Homo sapiens: one gene and its partners. The protein of the gene in region 1 purifies or fractionates together with the protein of each later gene. This does not show direct contact. Each region holds a gene or a part of one and is shown in the gene's direction. Other genes may lie near its edges. The genes, in order: SLC13A5, ZFC3H1, RAB3D, MTUS1, NIPSNAP2 and ZNF609.

The links.
Region 2: the proteins of SLC13A5 (region 1) and ZFC3H1 purify together in Homo sapiens (affinity purification with mass spectrometry; one large-scale study listed by BioGRID and IntAct). This does not show direct contact.
Region 3: the proteins of SLC13A5 (region 1) and RAB3D purify together in Homo sapiens (affinity purification with mass spectrometry; one large-scale study listed by BioGRID and IntAct). This does not show direct contact.
Region 4: the proteins of SLC13A5 (region 1) and MTUS1 purify together in Homo sapiens (affinity purification with mass spectrometry; one large-scale study listed by BioGRID and IntAct). This does not show direct contact.
Region 5: the proteins of SLC13A5 (region 1) and NIPSNAP2 purify together in Homo sapiens (affinity purification with mass spectrometry; one large-scale study listed by BioGRID and IntAct). This does not show direct contact.
Region 6: the proteins of SLC13A5 (region 1) and ZNF609 purify together in Homo sapiens (affinity purification with mass spectrometry; one large-scale study listed by BioGRID and IntAct). This does not show direct contact.

The regions. Positions count from the first base shown.
Region 1 is NC_000017.11:6,686,795-6,689,369, reverse strand, and holds part of SLC13A5 (Na(+)/citrate cotransporter), read left to right. Parts: intron 1-1,533; coding exon of another isoform or gene 1,534-1,593; exon of another isoform or gene 1,594-1,703; coding exon 1,704-1,841; exon of another isoform or gene 1,842-2,017; intron 2,018-2,575. UniProt on the Homo sapiens protein: High-affinity sodium/citrate cotransporter that mediates the entry of citrate into cells, which is a critical participant of biochemical pathways.
Region 2 is NC_000012.12:71,657,349-71,660,848, reverse strand, and holds part of ZFC3H1 (zinc finger C3H1 domain-containing protein), read left to right. Parts: exon of another isoform or gene 1-478; intron 479-3,500. UniProt on the Homo sapiens protein: Subunit of the trimeric poly(A) tail exosome targeting (PAXT) complex, a complex that directs a subset of long and polyadenylated poly(A) RNAs for exosomal degradation. The RNA exosome is fundamental for the degradation of RNA in eukaryotic nuclei.
Region 3 is NC_000019.10:11,336,858-11,341,145, reverse strand, and holds the start of RAB3D (ras-related protein Rab-3D), read left to right. Parts: upstream 1-1,488; 5' UTR 1,489-1,677; intron 1,678-3,685; 5' UTR 3,686-3,746; coding exon 3,747-3,974; intron 3,975-4,288. UniProt on the Homo sapiens protein: The small GTPases Rab are key regulators of intracellular membrane trafficking, from the formation of transport vesicles to their fusion with membranes.
Region 4 is NC_000008.11:17,791,095-17,794,594, reverse strand, and holds part of MTUS1 (microtubule-associated tumor suppressor 1), read left to right. Parts: intron 1-3,500. UniProt on the Homo sapiens protein: Cooperates with AGTR2 to inhibit ERK2 activation and cell proliferation. May be required for AGTR2 cell surface expression. Together with PTPN6, induces UBE2V2 expression upon angiotensin-II stimulation.
Region 5 is NC_000007.14:55,971,085-55,974,584, forward strand, and holds part of NIPSNAP2 (protein NipSnap homolog 2), read left to right. Parts: intron 1-3,500. UniProt on the Homo sapiens protein: Protein involved in mitophagy by facilitating recruitment of the autophagy machinery required for clearance of damaged mitochondria.
Region 6 is NC_000015.10:64,673,578-64,677,077, forward strand, and holds part of ZNF609 (zinc finger protein 609), read left to right. Parts: intron 1-338; coding exon 339-2,679; intron 2,680-3,500. UniProt on the Homo sapiens protein: Transcription factor, which activates RAG1, and possibly RAG2, transcription. Through the regulation of RAG1/2 expression, may regulate thymocyte maturation.

The DNA.
Region 1 (2,575 bases):
AAGGTGATGGTCATTGAGCTGGGCTGCAGAGGAGTGTGAGGTGCAGACACCATGAGGTACCCACAGCCAGGAAAACGAGGATGGTCGGGGAGACGCGCCAGCGAAGAGCTGGGCCCCTGCGTGGGACCCCTCAGTGGTTCCCAGGGGGCGTGGGACTTGCGCAGTCCTTTCAGAGGGCTGTTTACCAACAGGAACCGTAACATTAAACCTGCTCAGACCCCTTGACTCAGCAATTTCATGTCTGGGAATATATCTTAGGAAAATAATCAGAGATGCCTACCAACATATGTGATGATGATGTATGACAGAATTATTATACAAATATATCCATAGTAACAGGGGGTTTGCTGAAATAAATTATCATATATTCATATAATATGACATTATCAGGCCATTAAAAATCACAGTTTCAAAGAGTAATAAAATGGGAACATGCTCATAGTATAGTTTTTTAAAATTGCAGATGGTATATGGCTAAAAATGTCTAATAATGCAAAGATGTATACAGACCTTAATCCTCTAGCCTCCTCCCTAGAGATGACCTCTGTTAATTTCTCAAATATTTTTCTGGATATTTTACACACTCACACACTTTTTTTGAGACAGAGTTTCACTCTTGTCACCCAGGCTGGAGTGCAATGGTGTGATCTTGGCTCACTGCAACCTCCACCTCCCGGGTTCAAGAGATTCTCCTGCCTCAGCCTCCCGAGTAGCTGGGATTACAGGTGCCTGCCACCTTGCCTGGCTAATTTTTTGTATTTTTAGTAGAGACGGGGTTTCACCACATTGGTCAGGCTGGTCTCAAACTCCTGACCTCAGGTGATCCGCCTGCCTTGGCCTCCCAAAGTGCTGGGATTACAGGCGTGAGCCACTGCGCCCGGCCATTCATCTTAATTTTTAAAAAATCTAACCATGAAGCCTTGGTTATCTTGGAGAGCTTTCCTGATTAGCACAAAAAGAAAAAAAAATCCAATTCTTTACAGCTGCATACTATTCCATTATTTGTATGTGTCATATTTTATTTAACCATCCTGCTATTAGTGACCATTGAGTTGGCTTCCTGTGTTTTGCCGTTACATGGTTGCAACAAACATGTTTGCATGTGTCTGCCCTCATGTGCATGATACATGATTGATTTGATAGATTTTAGGAATTACATCATTCATTCATACACTCAGCAAATATTTAATGAGTGCCTACTCTCTGATAGGTGCTGTTGGATGTGGCTAAATTTTAAAGTGTAGAATTTAAAAGGTGGCTACCAAATTCCATGTGCAAAATGACCCCACGCATGTATAAAAACACACACATCCACAGATTTATATGCGGGAGAGAAGATGTGGTCCCTGGCCTCTAGGCTCTCTCAGTCTGTGGCAAGACAGACAGACATGTGCACGCGGCACTGTAAGGTTGAGCACAGTCTAAGTACTCAGCATGGTCTCTGGCACATAGTAGGTGCCCAAGAAATACATGTCGAATGAATTGAGGGGGTAAGGCCTTCTAGGGCAGGTGGCCTCTGACCTCAGCCTTCAGTGTTCCGTAGGTGGAATTATCTGCCAGAGACGTGGCAAAAGGGAGAGGAACCAAGACTGAGGCACAGAGGTTCAAACGTACCCGGCACATTCAGAGAATCCTTTTCAGAATCACGTCCCCAAGAGCTTCTGTGTTCTGTACGGTGATGTTGCAGTGCTGTTTTTCCGCAGTCTCGCTCCATCGGCCTCAATCCGCTGTACATCATGCTGCCCTGTACCCTGAGTGCCTCCTTTGCCTTCATGTTGCCTGTGGCCACCCCTCCAAATGCCATCGTGTTCACCTATGGGCACCTCAAGGTTGCTGACATGGTAACACAGCTGTTTTTATTTACTCCCGTCGGACTATAACGCTGTTGTCATAAGGGATGCCCCATTTATGAATGACAGAGTTTCAAAACGATGTCATGTGACTTGGGAATGCCACGGAACATCCAGACCTGTAGCCATTGTTGACATTTATAATGCAGCTTTTCTTCTTTTTCTGAGATGATCTCAAGCCTCACACACTGTTCTTTCTCTGAGGTGGGTTATAGACTCTCCCACCTGGAGAAGCCTGTGCAGGCACCAGGGGAGTCCTTGGAAGGGGTGAAGGTGGGGCTGAGGGACTCATATGGCCAAGGATGAACTTGACAAATTAGCAAGAACCATGAAGATAGGCAGGGCAGGCTTAGGCAGCAGGGGGATGCTAATGACAGTCACAGAGATTTGTAGGGGTGCCTGAAGAGGTAGAAGCAGGGAGAGGGAGAGAGAGAGCACTGCCTGGGAGTAGATGATGCCTTGGAAACAAATGTAGTCAGAGGAAGAACTCTTCATTAGCTCTGTCACCTTTGCTGGGAGAAGGGCAGCTTTGCAGCTCTGGGCTGGGAAAGAGGCAAGTGTTTGAGCCCAAGAGGCCAGAAATGTACCTGGGACCAATCGGGTGTTCGTTATCTCAGAGCCTCTGCTGGGTATCTCAGGGACTCCATGAGCATTTTCAAAAAAAAAGGTGGGTCCCAGAAACCATGGACTGCAAACTTGACTCCAATCCCCAGTAAAATATCTAC
Region 2 (3,500 bases), on another chromosome or scaffold:
AGAGCCACCAGTTTATATGTGTTTTTTAAAGGTACAAAGATGAAACCTGTAGTTTGTATTAGGGAAACAAATGAAAATAAGTAGTTGCAGTTTAGTATAAAAAGTTGAAACTGAAGTATGTATATAAAAAAGTACTATGGGAGCTCAAAGGTTTTTCTTAAAATTTTTATTCTGTATTAGAAAAGGGGGAGGTGAGTGGGCTTTCTGCTTTTGTCCTCTTTCTGCGTGTTTATTCAATACTATTTTGGGCCTCTACCATAGACCTTTATTAATTGGTAAGCTTGCATGTTTTTATTAGTAAACTGGCATATGATGTTGCAAAAAAAAAAAAGTACCAGAAAATATCCAGTCTGCTTGTGTGACTTTGATTTCCGTAGTAACTTGTCATAAATAAGATATCTTGTTGTTTTTCTTTTCACAGATGCTGCACTTAAAAGGATGCTTGTTTTGATGTCCTGCTCATTGTTTTCCCTATGAAGTATCAGTAATCCATCCTAGAGGTGGTGTTCTTTTTAAGAATTTGAGAAGGAAAACGTAGTTCCCAGCTACTTTTATATAATGTGAGCAAACAAAATATTTGTTACAACACTTCATTCAAATTTATTTAATATCAAGGTTGTACTCAGTTTAATTCATATTTCCACTATGTGATTATAATAATACCTTTTTTATTTTACAAATACTGTATAAAGAAAGAATGCAGGTTACTCTGTGGCATATTTCTGTAATTTAGAAGTAAAGTAGCCTGAGTATAGGGTTTATTTCTATTTTTGCCATAACTCCTTTCACTGTAATAACTAAGATATGCTAGTTGCAACTTTAAAGAAATAGAATAAACTAGATTCAATTGCAGTTCTTATTTTCACCCTTAATTTTTCTTAATGATAGACACTTTGTCAGTACATCTTAGCATGTCTCCCTTGAATGACTACTCTTTTAAACTTTCAAATCTGAGGAGAGCTAACATAATTAGGCTAGTGTCTCTCATCAGTAAAAAGTCATTCCATTTTCAGCTGCAGCTGAAAAGGTTGAATAGCACTTCTTTTTGTTTAAACCAAGGTTCAGTTAGAAATTGTATCTTGACAAGCTTAAAATTAAATCTGGTAAGTGTTGGTTTGATCTTAGGCTTCTGTATAGATAGGGATAGATTTTCTTTAGCCTTGAAGGAGATTAGTCAGTTATAGTTGTAACTCAATTGCTTTTCCTTATTTTTCTATTTAGCATTTTTGTTAGTGTATTTAATCATTTCCCTTTCTTTTCTTTTTTTTTTAATTGCAGTTGTGCCTTTAAATGGCTCCAGTGAAAAGTAAGATGTAAATGCAGATAATTACAGAACTTACATACAAAGAGTGTGTAAGAGGGGAAGGGAGAGTGAGAAACTCAGGCTTCACAGAGGTGACACTTGAATTGGGGTTAAGTTGAAGAACAGACAAACTTAGACACAAAGCTATGCAAAAATTGTGATGAACAAGGAAAAAGTAAGTTTGGAAAGGAAAGCACAGGTCAGATTATATTTATTCTCAGGATTTTGGACTTTTTTATTAGGGAAATTTAAACAAGGGGAATGATCTTATATTTGTATTCTAGAAAGATTACTCTGGCAGCAGCAGTATGAAGGATGGCTTGTAGGAGATAAGAGAAATATCTTATCACCAGGGTAAACTCTCCTGTGGTAGGTAAAACTGTGGAGGTGCATTAGAATGCTCAAAATGAGAAAGAGGCTAAGTAGTGCTCCCTGAAGAGCACCATTATTTCACAAGTTAGAGAGAAAAGACTCAATGGAGACTTAAAAGACAAAACACAAATAGGGAAACAAAGGGAGATGCGGAGTTATGGAAGCCAAGAGAGAAGTGGTTTATGGTGTCAGATTCTCAGAGGGGTCAGGTAAAAAAAAATAAAGTTTGAAAACATTGATAGGGAAACTTAGCCACAGCAGTCTCTCTAGATTAATGGGACAGAAACCAGATTCCATTTGGTAAGAAGGGTACAGAGAAACTAGTTTTCTTTCAGGATACTTGGCTTTGAAGAGATCAGAGAACCAGAGATTTACTAGAACAGTTTTGCTGTAGAACTGTTAAGATTTTCAGATGTACTTATTGCTTATTTTTGTTTCTTAGATGATGGTAATTCTCATTTTTAGAACTGGTCATCAGGAGAGTTTAAAAACCTTTTCTGCTGCTTGCCCTGTGAGGTGTTTAAACAGAAGAACCGTATTTGGGGTACTGTATTTTACATCCTAGCCAACTGAAAATAATCTATAGGCTGGGTGCAGTGGCTCACACCTGTAATCCCGGCACTTTGGGAGGTCAAGGTGGGCGGATTACCTGAGGTCAGGATTTCAAGACCAGCCTTGTCAACATGGTGAAACTCCATCTCTACTAAAAATACAAAAATTAGCTGGGCATGGTGGCACGCACCTGTAATCCAAGCTACTCAGGAGGCTGAGACAGGAGAATTGCTTGAGCCTGGGAGACGGAGGTTGCAGTGAGCCGAGATCGCACCACTGCACTCCAGACTGGCTGACAGTGCGAGACTCTGTCTCAAAAAAAAAAAAAAAAAAAAAAAATCTATAAATGATGTATTAAAACCACAGGAGGTACTGTCTTTTCTCTTGCTAATATCTGGCCTGGAAAAATGAGGTATAACAATTCTCGTGTATGAATTGTTTAGAATAAAAATTGTAGTTTGAAATTTTGTAGCTGTTTCTAAGGAAAAAGTTACCTTTTGTGTATCACTGTGTTAGAGAAGAAAGTAAGAACAGTTGCTTCAGATTATTTTCATAACATTTTCCCTTGTCTGTAGGAGAAAAATAGATATATTTTGAGTACTATTTTAAAGTGTTTTTTTTTTTCTTTTTTTTGAGATGAGGTCTCCCTCTGTTGCCCAGGCTGGAGTGCAGTGGTGTGATCTTGGCTCCCTGCAACCTCCGCCTCCTGAGTTCAAGCAATTCTCTTGCCTCAGCGTCTCAAGTACCTGGGACTACAGGCCTGCACCACCACGCCTGGCTAATTTTTTAATTTTTAGTAGAGATGGGGTTTCACTGTGTTGGCCAGGCTGGTCTCAAACTCCTGACCTCAAGTGATCCTCCTGCCTCGGCCTCCCAAAGTGCTGGGATTACAGGCGTGAGCCACCGCGCCTGGCCCCCTGAAGTGTAAACTATCCGCATCTGTGACAAAGCATTCAGTTTCTCCCCTCTTCCTTCAGAAAATAATCTCTAACATACAGCTAATTATGGACTTTCCTGGCACAGAAGGAATGATGCTATAACCTAACTAGGTGGACTGTCTGTGGATACTACTGGTAATTATGACACTAGTGATTTTGTAAGTGGACTGTTTATATGGTACTTACTAAATTCAAATATGGGCACGTAATGAAAGTGGGCATTAGCTGCACATACATTAAATGGAATTTAGTAATTTAAAAATATCGATTCATTTTTCTTGAAAAATTAAAAAGGGAGAAAATTCATCTATAATCTAAGTTTTTTTGTTAAATTT
Region 3 (4,288 bases), on another chromosome or scaffold:
TTTTTTTTGTGGCCAGCTAATTTTCAAAAAAATTTTTTGTAGAGTTGGGATCTCTATGTTGCCTAGGCTGGCCTTGAACTCCTGAGCTCAAGGAATCCTCCTGCCTCAGCCTCCCAAAGGGCTGGGATTACAGGCATCAGACACTGTGCCCAGCCTCATTTATTTTTTAATTTTTTTTTTTTTTTTTTTGAGACAGAGTCTCACTCCATCGTCTAGGCTGGAGTGCAGTGGCGCGATCTCGGCTCACTGCAACCTCCACCTCCTGGGTTCAAGCGATTCTCCTGCCTCAGCCTCCCAAGTAGTTGGGATTACAGGTGTGCACCACCATGCTCGGCTAATTTTTGTATATTTATTTATTTATTTGAGACAGAGTTTCGCTCTTTTTGCCCAGGCTGGAGTGCAGTGGCGTGATCTCGGCTCACTGCAACCTCCGCCTTCCGGGTTCAAGCAATTCTCCTGCCTCAGCTTCCAGAGTAACTGGGATTACAGGCATGCGTCACCACGCCTGGCTAATTTTGTATTTTTTAGTAGAGACAGGGTTTCTTCACGTTGGCCAGGCTAGTCTCGAACTCCCGACCTCAGGTGATCTGCCCACCTCGGCCTCCCAAAGTGCTGAGATTACAGGTGTGAGCCACCGTGCCCAGCCCCTAATATTTGTATTTTTTTTTTTTTTTTTTTAGTAGAGATGAGGTTTCACCATGTTGGCCAGGCTGGTCTTAAATTCCTGACCTCAAGTGATCCGCCTGCCTTGGCCTCCCAAAGTACTGGGATTACAGGCATAAGCCACCGCGCCCAGCTCTCGTTTATTTTTATTTATTTGAAACAGGGTCTTGCTCTGTTGCCCAGGCTGGAGTGCTGTGGTGCAATCAAGGCTCACTGCAGCCTCGATGTCTCCAGCAATCCTCCTGCCTCAGCCTCCCAAGTAGCTGGGGTTACAGACGCACGCCACCACACCTGGCTAATTTTTGTTATTTTTAGTAGAGATGAGGTCTCCTTACGATGCCCAAGCTGGTCTCAAACTCCTGGCCTCAAGTGATTCTCCTGCCTCGGCCTCCCAAACTGCTGTAATTACAGGCCACCGCGCCTGGCCTAGCCTACTTTAAGGCCGGCACTGCACTTGACAAACACTAACTCAGATCAGAATCCTCCCACAACTCTGTGAGGTTGGGTACTCTCGCTATGAGCTACTTGACGGATGGGGAAACTGAGGCTCAAAGAGGTTAAGTAACGCGTCCAAAGCCACAAGACTAGAAAGTGGTGGAGCTGGGACTCGAACCAGGCCCAAGACTCTATGCTTTTAACAGCCGTGCGTATAGTAGAAGCTCTTTACAAGCAGCTGGGAAAATGAGATGTTGCTTGGCTAGGACGGGCTCTAGACGCTTGGTGCAGCTTCCAGCCCCTCCCACCCGCTCTCTGAAAGCCCCGCCCAAGACTCGGCCCCTCTTCGTCCTCCCCCATCCCCCGCTCCGGGAACGGCCCTTCCTCCGCCTTCTGGGCGGAGCCCGCGCGGGATCCGGGTGGCTGCAGGCTGCTGGCTTCTGCGGCTGCGGGGTCGGGGTCGCGGCCAGGGCCAAGCCGCAGCGAGTTCACAGGCGGAACCCCTGCAGGCGGCGCCCCCTACGCGAGGTCACCCCTGGGAAGGAGCGCAGCCCACCCGGCCCCTCCGCATCCGAGCAGGTCTGTGGGGTACGGGGGTTTGGGAGGAAGGTAGGGGGTCTGGGGAACAAAGGCGGGGCTGCGGGGAACGCCTCTGCCCTCGCCCCCACCCAGCTGGGCACTTGGGAAGCGCTGATGGGGCGCGGGCGGGGCAGAGAGCCCAGCTGGGGACAGGCGTTGGGACCATATGGTGATGGGGGAAACTCCTGAGTCCACCTGCATTGGCTGGGGCGCCCCAAATCTAGTGAAGGGGAACAGAGGCGAGCCCTCCGGGGCCAGGCTTGAGGGAGGGTCGGCAGATGGTTAGAAAGAGGCGGGACCGACTGACACAGGTGAGCTAAGGCTGGGGGAGGTGGGGGCCCCAGCCTTGCGGCCCTGCCCTGCGTGGGGAAAGGTTTCCTGCCTCTTCTCTTCCCCTCCTTAAACTCGTTCTCCTGGAACACGGGGTGGGGCCGGTTGGGTCCTGGTTTAAAATGGAAAAAAGCCCCAAAGGCAGTTGAGAAATAGCTGTGCCAGGGCTGTCTCTGCCTCTGCCCCGCCTGCATCCAGGCCTTCTGCAGCCTCTCCGTGCGGTTCCCGCAGCGGCCATAGACAGCTGGGGAAACTGAGGCCTGGGAGAGGTTATGAGGGTTGAGGGAGCACCTTGGACTCGGATGAAGCAGCATGTTGGAGTGTGGGCAGATTCAAGGAGCCTAGCCGTGGGACAGATTGCCTGGAAAGACCAAGGGTGGGCGGCAGTGGTCGTGGTGGTGGGGTTGTGTTAATTAAGTGGCTGGGATCGTTTCCTTGGGTATAAGGACTCTCACTCCTGCCTCCGTGGACTGGGGCTGGAGTGAGTCAGCCTTGGGCAGAAGGAGACAGGCCTGGCCCCTTTGACAAATAGAAAATAGCAGTACCCATTTAGGGGGTAGAACTGGACTCTAAACCTGGGCCCTGTACATAGAAAACCCCTTCCCCTTGGAACTCAGAGAAGGGGTTGTATTTGGCATGAGTTGGTGGGCGGCAGGCGCCCCAGTGGCTGACACCTGCCAAAGTCAACACCCAAGCCTTAATCAGGGGCTCTATCCAGCTTATCCAGCTGGCAGGTCCTCCCCCCACCCCACCCCAGCTTACACCTGGGCCACACCGGCTGCACACGCTGGGGCGAAGTCCACACCTGTGCCTTCTCCAGAATCTAGTTCTGCAGGGGCCAGAGCCCCTTACCCTCGGCCTTGCACTTGAACCCTTTGCTAGGCCTCTGGGTTTCCAGATAGGAAAGGTCTCCCCACCCTCCACCCCAATACAGACTCAGTTACGCCACAGGGTGTGAAGATTAAACAGCAGTCACATTTTTTGTGCCCCAGCTCTATACCAGGCACTGTCTAATGACCGTTACGTGTGTTAATACCTTCCCACTGGAAGGAACGTGACCACCCGAGGATGGACTTTTTCTTGTCCTATTCACAGCTGCATTTCCACAGAGAACAGGGCCCGGCAGAGAGTAAGCATTTGTTGAATGAATAAAGAAACACATTTTAGGTCGGGCGTGGTGGCTCATGCCTGTAATCCTAGCACATTGGAAGGCTGAGGCAGGAGGATTGCTTGAGCAGAGGAGTTTGAAACCAGCATGGGCAACATAATGAGACCCCATCTCTACAAAAAAATTTTTTTTAAATTAGCCTGATGTGGTGGCATGTCTGTAGTCCCAGCTACTTGGGAGGCTGAGGCAGGAGGATCACTCGAGCCCAGGAGGTCAAGACTGCAGTGAGCTATGATCACGCCACTGCGCTCCAGCCTCAGGCAACAGAGCGAGATCTTGTCTCTAAAAAAAAAAAAAAAGAAAGAAAGAAACTCATTTTAGGCTCACAACCAACTACTCTTTCAGGAAGGGACTGTGACAAACATCCCATTTTTTAGAAGAGGACACTGAGGTCTAGAGGGGGCAAGCGATGCATCCAGCATCACTTGGTCTCCGAGTGACCGAGCTGAGATTTGAATCCAGGCCTGGTGCATTCACAGGAGCTGTTCTTGATGTTTGATTCCCCTGCAGGACGCCCGTCTCCTCTCCCTGAGGATTTCAGGTCTCCCTGTCCCAGGAGGCTTGTGCCAAGATGGCATCAGCTGGAGACACCCAGGCAGGCCCACGGGATGCAGCAGATCAGAACTTCGACTATATGTTCAAACTGCTACTGATAGGCAACAGCAGTGTGGGCAAGACTTCCTTCCTGTTCCGATACGCGGACGACTCCTTCACTCCCGCCTTCGTCAGTACTGTGGGCATCGATTTCAAGGTCAAGACCGTCTACCGCCATGACAAGAGGATCAAGCTGCAGATCTGGGTAGGCTGGGAGGCTGGCTGTGGGTTGGGGGTGGGGTCCCTCCAGGAAAGTTCATTGGAGGGTTCTTTTTTTTTTTTTGAGACGGAGTCTCACTCTGTTGCCCAGGCTGGAGGGCAGTGGCGGGATCTCGGCTCACTGCAACCTCCATCTCCTGGGTTCAAGCGATTCTCCTGCCTCGACCTTTTTTTTTTTTTTTTCTCTCGAGACAGAGTCTTGCTCTGTCGCCCAGGCTGGAGCACAATGGCACAATGTTGGCTCACTGCAACCTCCGTCTCCTGGGTTCAAGCAATTCTTCTGCCTCAGTCTCCCGAGTA
Region 4 (3,500 bases), on another chromosome or scaffold:
GCTGGTGGGTCAGGATAGGGTAGAAGGATATTGGAGAATGAGAAATGGATTTAAAAGGGCTGAGCCATGCCAAGACCTAGCTACCAAGAAAAATTCACGTGTTGTATTAGATCCCCAATCTAGGCCCCACATACAGAACCAAGTCATTTATACGTAGTGTATAGTTAGGCTTATATTTCATGTAAAATGATAAATAAAAAGCATGAGTAAAAATCCTTGCTGTTAGAATATTATGTTTGATTTTTTTTTCTTTTATCTTTTTTTTTGAGACAGAGTTTTGCTCTTGTTGCCCAGGCTGGAGTGCAGTGGCGTGATCTTGGCTCACTGCAGTGTCCGCCTCCTGGGTTCAAGCGATTCTCCTGCCTCAGCTTTCTGAGTAGCTGGGATTACAGGCATGCACCACCACGCCCGTCTTCATTTTTTATTTTTAGTAGAGACAGGGTTTCACCATGTTGATCAGGCTGGTCTCGAACTCCTGACCTCAGGTGATCCACCGGCCTTGGCCTCCCAAAGTGCTGGGACTACAGACGTGAGCCACTGTGCCCGGCCTGTGTTTGGTTTTCCTCAGCCTCAGCCATTTTTGAGCACTTTCTATGGGCCAAACACTGAGGTAGAAGAGAAAAAAAAGAATTTGACCTCTTTTCTTGGAGGAGTCAGAGAAACCCCAATCATTGTGAAAAGTGCAGTTTTGGAGATGTTAGTAAGTGTTTGTGTTGTTCGAAATATTCTCCCAGGTTGTTAACGTTGGGCTTTGCATTAAAAATTCCACCTGCTGACTTGACCAAAGTTTGGTCACGTAGGTTGTATTGACATTCTTGGTTATATAAAGCATCCTTGTCATTAATCATGCTTACCCTTTTCCTTCTCACCAAAAGGATTAAGAAGGAAAATACTTAGCACTGTACTCTTTGGCGTCTCTTAATTTCTCTCAATGAGAATCTTTAGTTACCTTTTCCAGTATATTTTTGCTACATCTTGTAAGCTCCTTAAGGATAGGGTCTAAATGTTCGGATGCTGGGTACATTTTTACTTTTATAATTATTTCTCCCAGATGTGGTCTGGAATAAATCATCTAGAGCTCTGATGGCATGGGAATTTGAAATTCTTTTGTCAGATAGTCACAGCTACTGGAAGGTCTTTTAAACCACAGGTATTAATTTCCTTATTGCTTTTCTGTGCCTTGCTCCTTGCCCTCTCCTCTTGCCCTCACCCCCTCATCCATTGTTTCATACTCAGCAAGCAGAGGGAAGGTAGTTTACCCTCAGTCTTGTGTCCGACTGAACGGCCATGGCTTTGGGAGCAGAGCATCAGAGCTGGAAGGTGCCAAGTTTCCTGATGCTTCTGAGTTACTGTTTTATTATGAAGAGTCAGTTTGAGAACATCTGGCATACCCATGTGCAAATACATGTACGTAATTGATTCCACTCATGATTTATGACATTCCCTATTCGTGCAGACAATCGCAAGTTGACAATTTCTTTTGACTAGGGACTTGGGCTGTTTTCTGTTTAGAGAAAAATGTATGTACAACTTAGGAATTCAGATAACTTTGCAGTCTAGGATTCTTTTTTCTCATTACATCTAATAAGATTTGTGTTTCAGAGTAGTTTTGCATTTATGTAAAACTTTTCAATAGTTCTCTAGACTTGCTGGTTATTGAACTTGATTTAATGCTGTGAAGAAGTATTTTCTGTTTAAGGGTTAAAAAATTGTTTTGCTTTCAGATTTTTTTTGAGACAGAGTCTTGCTGTGTCACAGGCTGGAGGACAGTGGTGTGATCTCGGCTCACTGCAACCTCCGCCTCCCAGGTTTAAGTGATTCTCATGCCATAGCCTTCTGAGTACCTGGCACTACAGGTATGCGCCACCGCGCCTGGATAATTTTTGTATTTTTGGTAGAGACAGAATTTCCCCATGTTGGCCAGGCTGGTGGCAATCTCCTGGCCTCAGGCGATCTGTCCACCTTGTCCTTCCAAAGTGCTGGGATTACAGGCGTAAGCCACCATGCCCAGCCTTCTGATGTTGCTTTATAGTGTTTTTGATGGCACCTCTGCAAAGGGATTTACTTACTCTTAATTTGAATTTAAAAGAGTAGGGTCAGTTAATGAAAAGGGAGGTAAGAAAAATCCTACATTTCTGTTTCTATGAGAAAACCTAAACCATTTTATATTGCAGATAAGACTATTTTGTTGGAAAGTTCTGGTTACAGCTTATTAGGCTGAACATTTAAAAATGTATAACCTTGTAGATATATAATCAAATGAAAACTATTTTCTCCTTATATGGTGTGAGTTGTTTTGATCTTGAATGATTAGCCCTCCATCCTTCAGTGCTAGGGACTGCTTTTCTTCTCTCCTTCCTCCTGTTTTTATTGAATTTCAAATAATAAATAGAGGTATTTCACCATTTAGCTAGATTTTGCCCACCATGACATCCATTATGAAACCCTGGGGACATACTTTATTATAGAATTGGAAAAATGTAATGGGTATCCAGGACATTTGGTGCAGTAATGTCATAGAGAGTGCACAGACTTAACAGGCAAAATTGGGTTCATGTCTGAGATTTTCCTATTAGCCATGTGACCTTGAGTGAAATTTCATTACCTTTGCTCCCCAGTTGGCTCATCAGGACGCTGGAAGGTGGGGGTAGTACCTTGTCTCCTGGGGTTATTCTGACACAGGTGCCAGGTATATAGAAAATGATCAATGGGTGCTAATAACCTTCCTTAGTCTCTAGTTTTAAATTAAATCTTCTGATTCATAGATAGGTGTTTCATTTAATTTCTGCTGCTTAGCCTTGGAGGTGTTGCTTGGATCTGCTGGTGCTGTCGGTTGGGAGTTAAATTCTAGGCTCAGGAGGCTGATAACTTTCCCTCTTCCTTAGGAGGAATTGATTTGTAGCAAACATTGGAGATTGTTTATTCTCAGACTCCAGCTTTGTCACCTCTTGTTTTTCTTGAAAGTTTAAGTCTAGTGAGCTGCTGATACTCCATTTGAACTGTGTTTTCAAAAAATCAATGTAGATACTTTTATCTTTGGTAAAGTCTGTAAATTATGTTGCCTCTTTGCTATCAGTCAGCACATTCGAAAGACAATTGAGTCATCACTTTGAACTAATCTTGGACTTGTGGATATTACAGTACTAAGGTTCCCTGTTCTGATTTTTCACCTGTAACATAGTCCAGAATATTTGTATTTTAGAGTTTCAATTGTAAAATGTTACTATTAATATACAGTATTTAAATATAAAAGCAATTTTGTATTTTCATCTTTTAAGCATAGTGAAATATTAATTCCCTATGTTTGTGGCAAGCACATTGTAAATATGATATTAAGAACTGATCACATCAGCCCTGCGGTTGGGCAGAGCAGGTCATGAGTGCTTTCTTTTATACTGAAGGAGACTGGGGACCAGAACTATTTGGATAAATGTTTTGTCTTATGGCGAGTAAGTTATGGAACTGGGACTGGACTTGTACCGGTCCATTTCCCACACCCA
Region 5 (3,500 bases), on another chromosome or scaffold:
TTATCCTCTGGAAAGTGCCCCCTACCATCTTGGCGATTGTCACTGTCAGTTAAGAACCCAGGCCCAAGCCAGATCTTATCATTTGGGCAGCCGTTGGCATAGCTGCGACTCGAATGACTAGATAGGTTGGGCATGTTAGGCAGCTTTGGTCACCTGACACTCAAAGATTTCAGTTTGACGGTTGGGGGTAGTACTGGCCGGCTTGTTTTTCATTTGTCAAGACGATTGCTGCCCAAGTTCACAAGCAAATGCCACTCAGGTTCTTTTGTGTGTGCTGTGTTGATTTAGTCTCACCCCCTGCTCTGCATTTTTCGATTACTAGCATTGTCACATCCCTTACCTCATTGTACCCACCCAAAGGGGAATCCCTTTGGTATTATTATTTGTTTGTTTGTTTTAGAGGTGGTCTTGCTCTGTTGCCCGGGCTGGAGTACAGTGCATGATCATAGCTCACTACAGCATTGAACTTGTGGGCTCAAGCGATCCTCCTGCCTCAGGTTCCTGGGTAGCTAGGACCATAAGCACGAGCCACCATGCCCAGCTACTCTTTTTATTTTTTTTTGTAGAGACAGGGTCTTCCTATGCTGCCCAGGCTGACTTTGGTGTTTCTGAGATATGAAATAAATGCTCAGTTGGGGTGATTTTTATTTCAAAGGCATCCTTTATCAGTGAAAATATTATCTGTCTATAAATATACATAATATATGTTTGCCTCTGTATTTCTGGAAGGATATACATAAAACTATTAGTAGTCATTGCTTTAGTATTTCTTATTTTAAGTGAAACTCCCTAGTCAGTATTTTTAGACACTTTTTATTATATCCCTTTCTTAATTGTTCATAATTGTTATTCCTAAGCTTTTACAATTTATTTAACAAAAAAAATTGTAGACACAATTTCTGTTTAATGAACTTAAAATCTAAAATAAACACAGAAATTGGCTGGGCACAGTGGCTCACACCTATAATTCCAGCACTTTGGGAGGCCGAGGCAGGTGGATCACCTGAGGTCAGGGGTTCAAGACCAGCCTGGCCAACATGGTGAAAACCCACCTCTACTAAAAATACAAAAATTAGATGGGTGTGGTGGTGGGTGCCGCTAGTCTCAACTGCTTAGGAGGCTGAGGCAGGAGAATCACTTGAACCCAGGAGGCGGAGGTTGCAGTGAGCTGAGATTGTGCCACTATTGCCCTCCAGCCTGGGCAACAGAGCAAGACTCTGTCTCAAAAAAAAAAAAGAACATACAGAAATTACATAGTCCCATAAACAAATCTTAAAACTTTCTACTTTGTGTATCACTAATTTTATATGGTTGCCTTAAAGTAATGCGTAAGTTTCTTTTTTCTTTTTCTTTTTTTTTTTTTTTGAGACAGAGTTTCACTCTTGTTGCCCAGGCTGGAGTGTAGTGGCGTGATCTCGGCCCACTACACCCTGCACCTCCCGGGTTCAAGCGATTCTCCTGCCTCAGCCTCCTGAGTAGCTGGGATTACAGGCATGCGCCACCATGCCTGGCTAATTTTATATTTTTAGTAGAGACGGGGTTTCTGCATGTTGGTCAGTCTGGTTTCCCGACCTCAGGTGATCCACCCGCCTCCTTGGCCTCCCAAAGTGCTGGGATTACAAGCATGAGCCACTGTGCCCAGCCCATGATATTATTAAACAGATATCCCTAAATGTAGTGTACGTAAAACACTTCAAACTAATTGACAAAATGTGCTTTCATTTTTATTGGAATATGGCTGGGTGTGGTGGTTCACGCCTATAATCCCAGGACTTTGGGAAGCTGAGGCAGGCAGGTCACTTGAGCTCAGAAATTCAAGACCAACCTGGGCAGCATGGTGAAACCCTGTCTCTACAAAAAAATACAAAAATTAGTTGGATGTGGTGCTGGGCACCTGTAGTCCCAGCTACTTGGGAGGGGTTGAGACAGGAGGATAGCTTGAACCCGGGAGGTCGAGGCTACAGTGAGCCAAGATCACGCCACTGCACTCCAGCCTGAGTGACAAAGTGAGACCCTGTCTCAAAGAAAAAAAAAATACAGAAGAGAAAAGCACAATATAGACATTATATGGAGAAAGCTGTGTGTCTTTCCCCTCTATCCCTTTAAACCATTTTCTCAGGGAAACCACCATTAATGCTTTCTTAATTTTTAGGAATTTTTATATATAGTAAACACAAATTGGAAGCATCTTCAACTTACATCTGCAAATGCCACTTAATACTATATGTTTTTATCTTTCAAGAAAAATTGCATTTACTGGTATTGTTATTTTGCTTGTTTAAAGTGAGTTTGCTTCTTTTTAATCTTTGAAGGATGTGAAAACGTGCTTTTATATTTCTTTATAATTATTTATAGAGCACATTTTATTTTTAATTTATTTTATTTTATTTTATTATTATTACTTTTTTTGAGATTGAGTCTTGCTGTGTAGCCCAGGCTGGAGTGCAGTGGCACGACTTGGCTCACTGCAATCTCCACCTCCTGGGTTCAAGCGATTCTCCTACCTCAGCCTCCTGAGTAGCTGGGATCACAGGCGTGTGCCACCACACCCAGCTATTTTTTTTTTTTTTTGTAGTGTTAGTAGAGACAAGATTTCACCATGTTGGCCAGGCTGGTCTTGAACTCCTGACCTCAGGTGATCCACCTGCCTCGGCCTCCCAGAGAGCTGGGATTTAGAAGCGTGAGCCACCACTCCCGGCCAATATATTTGTATTTGTAAGTTCACATCATTCAAAAATCTTTATATCTGGTTTCTACCTATTTGAGACAATATCCTATGAATTGGTTTTTAAATTAAAAGAACATCATATTGGGGAGAAGATTGCTCTGTAATGTTTGTTCAAGAAAGCAGCAAACTAGGCTGAGTGCGGCAGCTCACCCTTGCAATCTCAGCACTCTGGGAGGCTGAGGCTGGCGGATCACTTAAGGCCAGGAATTCGAGACCAACCTGGCCAACATGATGAAACCCTGTCCCTACTAAAAATACAAAGATTAGCCGGATGTGGTGGCATGCACCTGTAGTCCCAGATAGTCAGGAGGCTGAGGTGGGAGAATTGCTGGAACCTGGGAGGCAGAGGTTGCAGTGAGCCGAGATTGCACTACTGCACTCCAGCAAGTGCAATGAGACCCTGCCTCAAAAATAAATAAATAAAGCAGCAAACTGATTTTTTAAGCAAAAAAAAAGAAAGAAAGAAAGAAAGAAAAAGGCTGCCAGTATCATGTGAAATTTAGAGCCCTACTTCTAAAATACCGTTGCTGCATAAGAATAGGAATTTCTATTATTGTAGTATGAAATCCATGTGTTCATTTCATGAAGTACTGGGGAATTTGCTCTCATGAGAGTTTTTCTTGTCCCTTGTTTAAATTCCTGGTCCCCCTTTTTAATACCTGGAGTTGCTCTTTCTTTTCCTCTTAATGTTTACCTGGTGGTATCTGGGTGCTTAAGCAAGTCTACCAAGCAGATTAGAAATACTATTGTAGAAGGCTGGGCGCAGTGGCTC
Region 6 (3,500 bases), on another chromosome or scaffold:
GACAAGTCATTTAGCATGCCTGGCCTCAATTTCCTGTATGATCTCTAACATCTTTTCTGAAACCATGACTATGGCTGTATATAGGAAATGTTGACTTGACTATCTTACGGAACAGATTCTGCATGGTTTTAGAGGTAAATGTTTGGGAATAATTTGCAGCTAACGTGTATCCCAGGAGTTCACCATTTAGTGCAATTCACAATCAGAATTTCTTTTAACAAATCATATTCATTGAAAATGATAGTCACCATCTGGACAGTTCTGGAGGCTACAGCTAAACTGCTTTGAAGATGTTTTCTCTTCTTAATAATATTCTGTTGTGTTTATCCTTTGCCAAGGTTCTGTGACTCCCCGACCAGTGACCTGGAAATGCGCAATGGCCGGGGTAGAGGCAAACGCATGCGTCCCAACAGTAATACACCTGTCAATGAGACAGCCACAGCCTCTGACAGCAAAGGGACCAGTAACAGCAGCAAAACCCGGGCAGGAGCCAATAGCAAAGGCCGTCGGGGCAGCCAGAATTCTTCAGAGCACCGCCCACCTGCCAGCAGCACTTCTGAGGATGTCAAGGCCAGCCCTTCCTCAGCTAATAAGCGGAAAAACAAACCCCTTTCAGACATGGAGCTGAATTCTAGCTCAGAGGACTCCAAAGGGAGCAAGCGTGTCCGTACTAATTCCATGGGCTCAGCCACTGGCCCCCTTCCTGGGACAAAGGTAGAACCCACTGTTCTGGACAGAAACTGCCCCTCCCCCGTCCTAATTGACTGTCCCCACCCAAACTGCAACAAGAAGTACAAGCACATCAATGGACTTAAGTACCACCAAGCTCATGCCCATACAGATGATGACAGCAAGCCGGAAGCGGATGGGGACAGTGAGTACGGAGAGGAACCTATTCTCCATGCAGATCTTGGGAGCTGCAACGGTGCATCTGTCTCACAAAAAGGTTCCTTGTCCCCTGCCCGCTCAGCTACCCCCAAAGTTCGACTTGTAGAGCCCCATAGCCCTTCTCCTTCAAGCAAATTCAGCACAAAAGGCCTCTGTAAGAAAAAGTTGAGTGGGGAAGGGGACACAGACCTTGGGGCCTTATCCAATGATGGCTCTGATGATGGACCCTCAGTGATGGATGAAACAAGCAATGATGCCTTTGATTCTTTAGAAAGGAAGTGTATGGAAAAAGAAAAATGTAAAAAACCCTCTAGTTTAAAACCTGAAAAGATTCCTTCCAAGAGCCTAAAGTCAGCCCGTCCCATTGCCCCTGCCATCCCCCCACAGCAAATCTACACCTTCCAGACAGCCACCTTCACAGCAGCGAGCCCAGGCTCTTCCTCAGGCTTGACCGCCACAGTGGCACAAGCCATGCCCAACAGTCCCCAACTCAAGCCCATTCAGCCCAAGCCCACTGTTATGGGAGAACCTTTCACAGTCAACCCTGCCTTGACTCCAGCCAAGGACAAGAAAAAGAAAGACAAAAAAAAGAAGGAATCTTCAAAGGAACTTGAAAGTCCTCTGACCCCTGGGAAGGTGTGTCGAGCAGAGGAAGGCAAAAGCCCATTCAGGGAATCTTCAGGAGATGGGATGAAAATGGAGGGGCTCCTAAATGGCTCATCAGACCCCCACCAAAGCCGACTGGCTAGCATCAAGGCTGAAGCCGACAAGATCTACAGTTTCACGGACAATGCCCCCAGCCCTTCCATTGGAGGCAGTAGCCGCCTTGAAAACACTACCCCTACTCAGCCCCTGACTCCCTTACATGTGGTGACCCAGAATGGAGCTGAAGCCAGCTCAGTCAAAACCAACAGCCCTGCATACTCTGACATCTCTGATGCTGGGGAGGATGGGGAGGGCAAGGTAGACAGTGTCAAATCAAAGGACGCCGAACAGTTGGTTAAAGAAGGGGCTAAGAAAACTCTTTTTCCCCCTCAGCCTCAGAGCAAAGACTCACCATATTACCAAGGCTTTGAGAGTTACTATTCTCCAAGTTATGCACAGTCCAGCCCTGGGGCTCTGAACCCCAGCAGCCAGGCAGGAGTGGAGAGCCAGGCCCTGAAGACAAAAAGGGATGAGGAACCTGAGAGCATAGAAGGGAAAGTGAAGAACGATATCTGTGAAGAAAAGAAGCCCGAGCTGAGCAGTTCCAGTCAGCAGCCCTCGGTCATCCAGCAGCGTCCCAATATGTACATGCAGTCCCTGTACTACAACCAGTATGCCTATGTACCCCCCTATGGCTACAGCGACCAGAGTTACCACACCCACCTTCTGAGCACTAACACGGCTTACCGGCAGCAGTACGAAGAACAGCAGAAACGCCAGAGCTTAGAGCAGCAGCAGCGGGGAGTGGACAAGAAGGCAGAGATGGGCCTGAAGGAGCGGGAGGCAGCACTCAAGGAAGAGTGGAAGCAAAAGCCGTCAATTCCACCAACTCTCACCAAGGCCCCCAGCCTGACAGACCTGGTGAAATCAGGACCTGGCAAGGCCAAGGAGCCAGGGGCTGACCCAGCCAAATCAGTCATCATTCCCAAGTTAGATGACTCTTCAAAACTCCCGGGCCAGGCCCCTGAAGGCCTTAAAGTGAAGCTGAGTGATGCCAGCCACCTAAGCAAGGAGGCCTCTGAGGCCAAGACAGGTGCTGAGTGTGGTCGACAGGCAGAGATGGATCCAATACTCTGGTACCGACAGGTAACTGTTGCCCTGGGAGGAAGTGGAAATACCGTATGGTAATCGTCTATCTTCCTCACAAATAAGGGCTGTCCTTATACAGGGGTTCAACGGAATTGAGATTAGCAGGAGAGATGTATAATTTTAAGGATTCTTTACCTTTGTAAACTATTTTAATGTTTTTTATTTTATTTTAGTATTATTATTTTTTTTGAGATGGAGTCTCACTCTGTTGCCCAGGCTAGAGTGCAGTGGTGCAATCTTGGCTCACTACAACCTCCGCCTCCCAGGTTCAAGCAATTCTCCTGCCTCAGCCTCCCGAGTAGCTGAGATTACAGGCACACGCCACCATGCCCAGCTAATTTTTTTTGTATTTTTAGTAGAGATGGGGCTTCACCATCTTGGTCAGGCTGGTCTGGAACTCCTGACCTCAAGTAATCCACCTGCCTCAGCCTCCCAGAGTGCTGGGATTACAGGCATGAGCCACTGCACCCAGCCAATTTTTATTTTATTTTATTTATTTATTTATTTATTTTGAGATGGAGTCTGGCACTGTCACCCAGGCTGGAATGCACTGGCGCAATCTCAGCTCACTGCAACCTCTGCCTCCCAGGTTCACACGATTCTCCTGCCTCAGCCTCCCGAGTAGCTGGGATTACAGGTGCACGCCACCACACCTGGCTAATTTTTTGTATTTTTAGTAGAGACGGGGTTTCACCATGTTAGCCAGGATGGTCTTGATCTCCTGACCTTGTGATCCACCCACCTCGGCCTCCCAAAGTACCTGGATTAAGGCGTGAGCCACTGCGCCCAGTCGTAATTTTTTTTATTTTTATGTTTTT